Homo sapiens: one gene and its partner. The protein of the gene in region 2 purifies or fractionates together with the protein of the main gene of each other region. This does not show direct contact. Each region holds a gene or a part of one and is shown on either strand. Other genes may lie near its edges.

Evidence for each region.
Region 1: the proteins of GNB1L (region 2) and MND1 purify together in Homo sapiens (co-immunoprecipitation; one large-scale study listed by IntAct). This does not show direct contact.

The regions. Positions count from the first base shown.
Region 1 is NC_000004.12:153,354,489-153,358,305, reverse strand, and holds part of MND1 (meiotic nuclear division protein 1 homolog), read right to left. Parts: intron 2,653-3,817; coding exon 2,595-2,652; intron 1-2,594. UniProt on the Homo sapiens protein: Required for proper homologous chromosome pairing and efficient cross-over and intragenic recombination during meiosis.
Region 2 is NC_000022.11:19,816,853-19,820,669, forward strand, and holds part of GNB1L (guanine nucleotide-binding protein subunit beta-like protein 1), read right to left. Parts: coding exon 3,746-3,817; intron 1-3,745. UniProt on the Homo sapiens protein: Acts as a critical regulator of DNA damage response (DDR) signaling via specifically regulating phosphatidylinositol 3-kinase-related protein kinase (PIKK) family proteins.

The DNA of each region.
Region 1 (3,817 bases), on a different chromosome or scaffold from region 2:
TTTCTTAGAATGTATCCCCATCCTTAAGCAAAGCATGACTTATACAGGAGCCTAGGGGAAAACAAGTAATATACAGGATTAAGAACAGGACCTGAGTTCTAATCCTAACTCTTAGCAGTAACACTGGATGACTCTAGGGCAAATTGTTCTTTATGCCTAATTTAAAAAATCTATTAGATATGATCATTTCCATACTTACTTTGGTGCATAGCAGTAATGTCAATAAAATGTTACTTGTGAGAAGCCTTTGAAAAAGCAAAACAAAACTACAGAAATGCAAGTTTTTCTCTCCCAATAGATTATCTAGTAATAGAAGATGCTAGCATCAGTGCTTAGTAAATAATTTTAATGGTGTTAACACTCATAGTCTGTTGCTATATGGTATCTTTTCCTTTTCTAAATAATGTTTCTTTTTTAAAAAAGATGTTGGGTAATTTGGCCATCATCTTATACTGCAGAAAAAAATTGTCAATAACTGGGAGGGAAAATAGGTAAGAAGAAAAGGAATTTAGTTAATACAATAAATTTTTCCATCTTGTAGACTGGATTGAATTTTGTTTTTTGTTTTTGATCCTTCAAGATACAGTTGAGATTCCATTACCTACAATTTGTCTGGGGACATTAGGACACTGGTGTAATTAATATTGTATAGTTGACCCTTGAACAGTACAGGTTTGAACTGCATGGGTCCAGTTATATACATGGATTTTCTGCCACCTGAGACAGCAACACCACTTCCTCCTCCTCCTCAGCCTACTCAATGTAAGATGACAAGGATGAAGAACTTTATGATGATCCACTGCCACTTAATGAATAGTAAATACATGGTATGGCTTCCTGTCAACAGCAGGCTATCAGTAGTTAAGTTTTGGGGGAGTCAAAAATTACATGCAGATTTCCAATTGTGTGGGGGATTGGTATCCCAATCTTGAACAACATAGGTGTTGTTCCAGGGTCAACTGTGTATTTAAACTTAAGAAATTTGCATATCTTTAAGAAGTAGCAGAACCAATTGTTCACTGATGACTGTAAAGAGAATAATTGTGTGGTGTACATAAAAGTGTGAGGGACTCTCAGTGGTTGTCTGGTTTCACTTGTATGTATACTCATAATAAAAGAGGTTTTTTCATTTTGAAACAACACAACAAAAGACACACAAAAAATACATCAATGTGCATCTATAAAATATGCATGGTGGCTCATGCCTGTAATCCCAGCACTTTGGGAGGCCAAGGCAGGTAGATCACTTGAGGTCAGCGGTTTGACAACAGCCTGGCCAACATGGCAAATCCCCATCTCTACTAAAAATACAAAAATTAGGTGGGCATGGTGGCAGGAGCTTGTAATCCCAGCTACTCATGAGGCTGAGGCAGGAGAATCGCTTGAACCCGGGAGACAGAGGTTGCAGTGTGCCAGGACTGCACCACTGGGCTCCAGCCTGGACCACTGGGCTCCAGCCTGGGTGACAGAGTAGACTCTGTCTCAAATAAATAAATAAACAAATAAATAAATAAATAAAATAAAATATGCATGGCCAATATATGAGAAAAATGTTCAACCCCATTAATAACTGAAGAAATCGAAAATAAAGCAATTAGACATGACTTGACTACCAAATTAAAAACACTAAAAAATACAATAAAGAATTCAAGGATACTTGAATGGGTACTCTCAGTATGGGTGGAGAAACGTGGCAATCTGTATCTAAAACTTCAGATTTATACATATCTTTTTTTTTTTTTTTTTTTTTTTTGAGACTGAGTTTCACTCTGTCACCCAGGCTGGAGTGCAGTGGCGCGATCTCGGCTCACTGCAAGCTCTGCCTCCTGGGTTCACGCCATTCTCCTGCCTCAGCCTCCTGAGTAGCTGGGACTATAGACGCCTGCCACCACGCCCGGCTAAGATTTTTTTGTATTTTTAGTAGAGACGGGGTTTTAGTAGGCAGGATGGTCTTGATCTCCTGACCTCATGATCCAACTGCCTTGGCCTCCCAAAGTGCTGGGATTATAGGCGTGAGCCACCACGCCCAGCCCAATTTATACATATCTTTCCTGGGGAAATTCCACCTTATAAATACAGCCAAACAAAAAATAATAGATATGTAGAAGGATGCCTGTCAACACATTGTTTTCGACAGCAAAAGAATTGGAAACCAGTCTAATAACTGGATTTTTATTTTAAAGACAGGATTTTGCTATGTTGCCTAGCTGGGCTGAAGTGATCCTCCCGCTTCAGCCTCCAGAGTGGCTGGGACTACAAGTGTGTGTGCGCTACCAGCCAGCTTATCAACTAGATTTTTAAAAGTATTTTTTTATTGCAATGGGATACTATACAATCATTTATGTTATAAAAGGATATTTAATGACAGGGATATATATTCAAAATGTAATATACAGGATGTATTATACAGAAAAATAAAGGACAACATGACAGTGGTTATCTTTGGATGGTGATGATTTCTTTGTCTCTAGAAATTTAGGTTTTCCATAAAGTGAAAGACTGTTGCAGAAAAGATGACTTAATGAATATTAAGATATTTCCCAAAACATCCCAGTATATTTCCCAAAACATTCCAGTATAACTTTGGTACTTACTAATGCCTTTCTCTTTGGGAGCAATCTTCTCCAAGTCTTTTAATTGAAATACATCTTTCTGTTTAAAGGGTTTTAAAGAAAATGAAAAGCACGTGTTTATTTTCTACTATGTATATTTTCATTTTTAAAAATTTTTATTATGGGTACATAATAGTTGTATACATTTACAGGGTATGTGTGATATTTTGATATAGGTATACAATGTGTTATGATGAAATTGTGGTAATTAGGGTATCCATCTCTTCAAACACTTATCATTTCTTTGTGTTAGGAACATTCCAATTTCACTCTTAGTATTTTTAAATATACAATATATTATTAACTATAGTCACCCTATCGTGTTCTACTACATATTTATATATACATCATAATTTTATGTTCATGAAAAATTGTATTTAAAAAATTGGCCTGGAAATGAACAGTATAATAGAATCAAGCATTTTAGAGCTTATTAGAAACTCTTTGATTATCTCATTCCATACCTTCAATAGAACTTAAGAGATTTTTGCATACATTTACAATTTGCATATATATACAATTTTTTTTTTGAGACATGGTTTCACTCTATGGCCCAGATGGGAGTACAGTGGCACGATCATGGCTCACTGCAGCCTTGACCTCCAGGGCTCAAACAATCATCCCACTTCAGCCTCCTGAGTAGCTGGGACTACAGACATGCACCACCATGCCTGGCTAATTTTTAAAAATTTTTTTAGAGAGAGGGTCTCACCATTTTGCCCAGGCTGGTCTTGAACTTCTGGACTCAAGCAATCCTCCCGTCTCAGCCTCCCAAAGTGCTAGGATTACAGAGATGAGCCACCATGCTTGGCCAGCAGCATACAATTATTTAAAGTTCTTGGAGATCAGAACATAAAGAACAATCTTCCCACTTAAGTATAAAAACTAGTTATAGGCCAGTCATGGTGTCTCCTGTCTATAATCCCACCACTTTGGGAGGACTGCTTGAGCTCAAGAGCTGGAGACTGGCCTGGGTAACACAGTGAGACCACTCTTGCACCACATCTCCACAAAATCAAAAAAATTAGCTGGGTGTGGTAGTGCGTGCCTGTAGTCCTAGATACATGGGAGGCTGAGATGGGAGAATAGCTTGAGCCTGGGAGGTTGAGGCTGCAGTAAGCTATGACTGTGCCACTATACTCCAGCCTGGGCAAGAGTATAGAGTAAGACTGTGTCTCAAAAAACAAAACAAAACAAAACAAAAA
Region 2 (3,817 bases):
TCCTGGCCTCCCAGGCTGCCGCTGCCACACCACCCCCCCAACCCTGCTTCTTTGACTGCCTGGCACCCCCTTCCCACCCCATCCAAGGGGCACTGAGGTGGGGGAAGGCGGGACCGCTGGGTACCCACATGGAAACCCAGGGCCTTCACTGCACACCGTAGTGAATTCCAGCTGAACCATGGATCTACAAGGGACAACAGTAAAGTTCCTGGGAGACATGGAGAGAGGTCTCTCGGACCTCGGTGCAGGAACTCCCGGCAAGACACAAAGGCACTCTCCATAAGGGGAAAGCCTGGCAGACTTGAATCAACTCCATTAAAATGAGTAACTTTGTTCATTAAAGACACCATTAGGGGCCAGGCACAGTGGCTCATGCCTGTAATCCCAGCACTTTGGGACGCCAAGGTGGGCAGATTATGAAGTCAGGAGATCATCCTGGCCAACATGGTGAAACCCCATCTCTAGTAAAAATACAAAAATTGGCTGGACGTAACGGCACATGCCTCTTATCCCAGCTACTCGGGAGGCTGAGGCAGGAGAATCACTTGAACCAGGGAGTCGGAGGTTGCAGTGAGCCAAGATCATGCCACTGCACTCCAGCCTGGCAACAGAGCAAGACTTTGTCTCAAAAAAAGAAAAAAAAACGTAAGAAAAAGAAAACAGCGACAGCTGACTGCAGCTACATGCAACACACGGAGCTCACGGAGATAAAGTTGAGTGAGAGAAGTCACACACAGATGCTGCTCCTTATGTCTCCACGCTTCCAAAGAAAAAAGCAGACAAAATAGTCTATGCTTTTCAGAGACATACATTCATAAATATAGCAAAAATGAGGCGTGAGGGGCTACCTCCTGGGGCATGAGGGGCTATCTCCAGGGAGAGCAGGTGGCAGCAGCTCAGGGATTCAGAGGCTCGGGGGCCCTGCGCTCTACTTCTTGACTGGAAGGTGGTTGCTCAGGTGCTCACTCAGCCGTAATACAATGCTCTGAACACTTGTCTTGCACTCTTCTGTGAGTACATTATACTTCACAAGAAAAAAGATTAAAAAACACCCTGCCGAGGTGGCTGTCGAAGGCACAGGTGTGTCCTTGGCATGCGGGAGGCTGAGGGCGTCCTCCCACCTCCCATCAACATGAAAGCCATCACTTCCTTCAAGGGCCACTTGGAGAGACTTGGCTTCCAAACACAGCTGAGCACAGGCCGGGTGGCGGCCCACAGGCTCTAGTACAGTGCAGACGCACCTGGCACTCCACACCTGCAGTTTCTGTCCACAGACCCCCTGACCCGTGGCTGGCTCTGCCTGGGAAGCAGCCACTACAGCACCATCCCAGCAGGAAGGGGAGGTGCCCTCGAACGTCAGCTCCCAGACCGCCCACCAGGCCTGGCACAGCTCCTGTCTGCAGGACAGCCTGATACCACAAGGCACCTACGCAAGGGACCACCAAGGGCTACATTGTGGCTGAAAACTCAGGAGGACACTTACAAACAGCAGCTCCTGATGCACATGGCCTGGTGGGGTTCTAGAAATGAAGTCTACTCTGACAATCAAAGACCAAACCCACTCTGAGGCCCCCTGCACCAGTGGTGAGGGATCTGGGTCGGCTTGGCCAGGATGCAGGCATGACCACACGGGGCTCTGCAAGCACACAGGCTCAGGGCCTCTGCTCTTCAGGACAACCCTGGTGCCTTCGTCACCTGCAGCCATCTCCCAGGTGGTAGGCACCGCGTGAGTCTAGCACAGACATGTTTTGCAGACTGGTGGGGGCCAGACAGGCCTCATTCTCCAGGGACTATACTCCACAGTGCCATGAACCAGGCACCGAGTCCAGAGCAGGAGAACAGGCCTGTCCTTCTGGAGTTCTGGGCTGTGATGGTGATGGCACGGAGTTCCCTGAATATGACGCAAGGCAAATCCCAGGACAGCAGCAGGCCCGTGCTCAGGATTCCTGGGCTGGTGGCAGCGATCCCCACACAGGGGCAGATGTCACTCTGATCAAGGACAATAGCCTGCTCCAGCATCCAGGCAGCCCAAAGGAGGACTTGTTGTCAGCCCCCTGCAGGCCTTCCCTGTCCCACCATGCCCTGTCCCTCCCACTCCCCATGGGAAACAGAGAAGCCCCTCACGCACCTGCCCCTGTCTGCTGCTTCCTGGCCTACCTCCGGCCTGGTGTCTCAGCCCCATCACCTCCACAAGACCACGGGGGCGATGTCAGAACCCAGCCCTGGGCTAACCCTCGGGGGCTGCCCCTCCCTGCTCTGCTGCCAGCTGCCCAGCACCCAGCCCCACTGTCCTTCACCACACTCAGAGGCAGGCCCTCCAGGGCCGCAGCACGTGGGGTCTCCCCCACCAGGACTGCCAGGCCCTCTTATTCCTCCGCCACCTCCTGCTTACCCAGCAGCTGCACCAGCGTGTGAAGCAGGGCCCTGTGAGCTGGGTAACCTCAGGATGAGGCTCTGCCACCCATGCAGGAGGATGGTGCGACAGCCACAGGAGGCCAAGTTGTAGAGGGGCTGTGGTGACTGGGACCTGGGCCCATGGGATAGAGGCAGAAGCTCATCTGAGGAGGGGCCTGGGCTCAATGCGGACCCCTGGCCAGGGCGAGCTCTGCTGAAGGCACAGGCTGACACTGCAATGGGGACACAGCCATCGCCATACGTTCACTAGGCTCTTCCCAGCAGGCACCTGGCCAGACAGCACAGCAGTCACGGAGGGTAGGGTCACACTGTCTCGGGATGGGCTAAGGCCTCATGAACCATGGGGGCACCCAGAAACCTGCCCTTGTGCTAAGCACAGGCTAGAACAGTGGGGTCTGAATACCAATGGGGACAGGCCACCTCTGTGGACCCTTCCTGCTGGGGTACAGTCTGGACAAGTAATCCCCAAGTGATGCGTAGGGTACAGAACACACACGTGAGCTCGGGGCCCTGAGGGAGGAGACTGCAGGGGTAGAAACCACAGGAGACACTGCAGGGGGGACCAGGTGGGGAGATGGCCCTCACTACCACGCCCACTTCAGAAACGCAGAAGCACACTGCTGTGGGACAGCACTATACACCCAAGCCCTGCGCCCCGCCCCTGGCCACTCAGCCACCATCTTGCCAGCCACATAGCCGTATGTGGCACAACATCAGGGGCTGGGTCCTCTTGGGAAGAGTCAGGTGCATTGTCATAACCTAGTGAAGGGACACACACGGCCAGGGCTCAGCTGCCGGAACACCCAGCTCCTAGGGCCTCCACCGGCACCGTGTGTGACCTGCCATGCTCATGGCACACGGCCCAGGCAGGATGGGCAGTGGGCAGGGAGGCCCTCCTTGGGACCACTGCCTGCATCCCTGAGCCTGTACTTCATCCCATTCCCCTCCTCTCAGCAAATGCCCTCACCCCTGCCCAGTTTCCCAAGCCACGACCCAGTGCCCTTGTGAAGGCCCTCCCACCAACTTGCGCCTGGGCTCACCTCAGATGTCACCAGCCCTGGAGCTCTGGCCTCCTCACCTGGCACCTCCTGGCTCCAGCTTGGAGCATGAAGGGTCCAGTGGAGATGGTGGAGATGCAGAGGCAGACCTGCCTGCCTCCCTGTGACAAGGGGCTGGACCTGCACACCCTGCCCTTGCTGCGGACCCTTTGCTGGCCCCTTCTGGTTCCCCCACCCCATTCTGCCCCTCAGTGGGGGACACCAGAGCCTCCATCAGAGAGTTCCTGACTCCCCCGAAGGCCATACCTGGCTCCTGCACCTTGGAGACCCACCTGAGGAGCTGGCGCCCCTGGGGCAGCGTCTGCAGCCAGGTCACACACTGGCCGCCGTGGCCATCCAGGGTG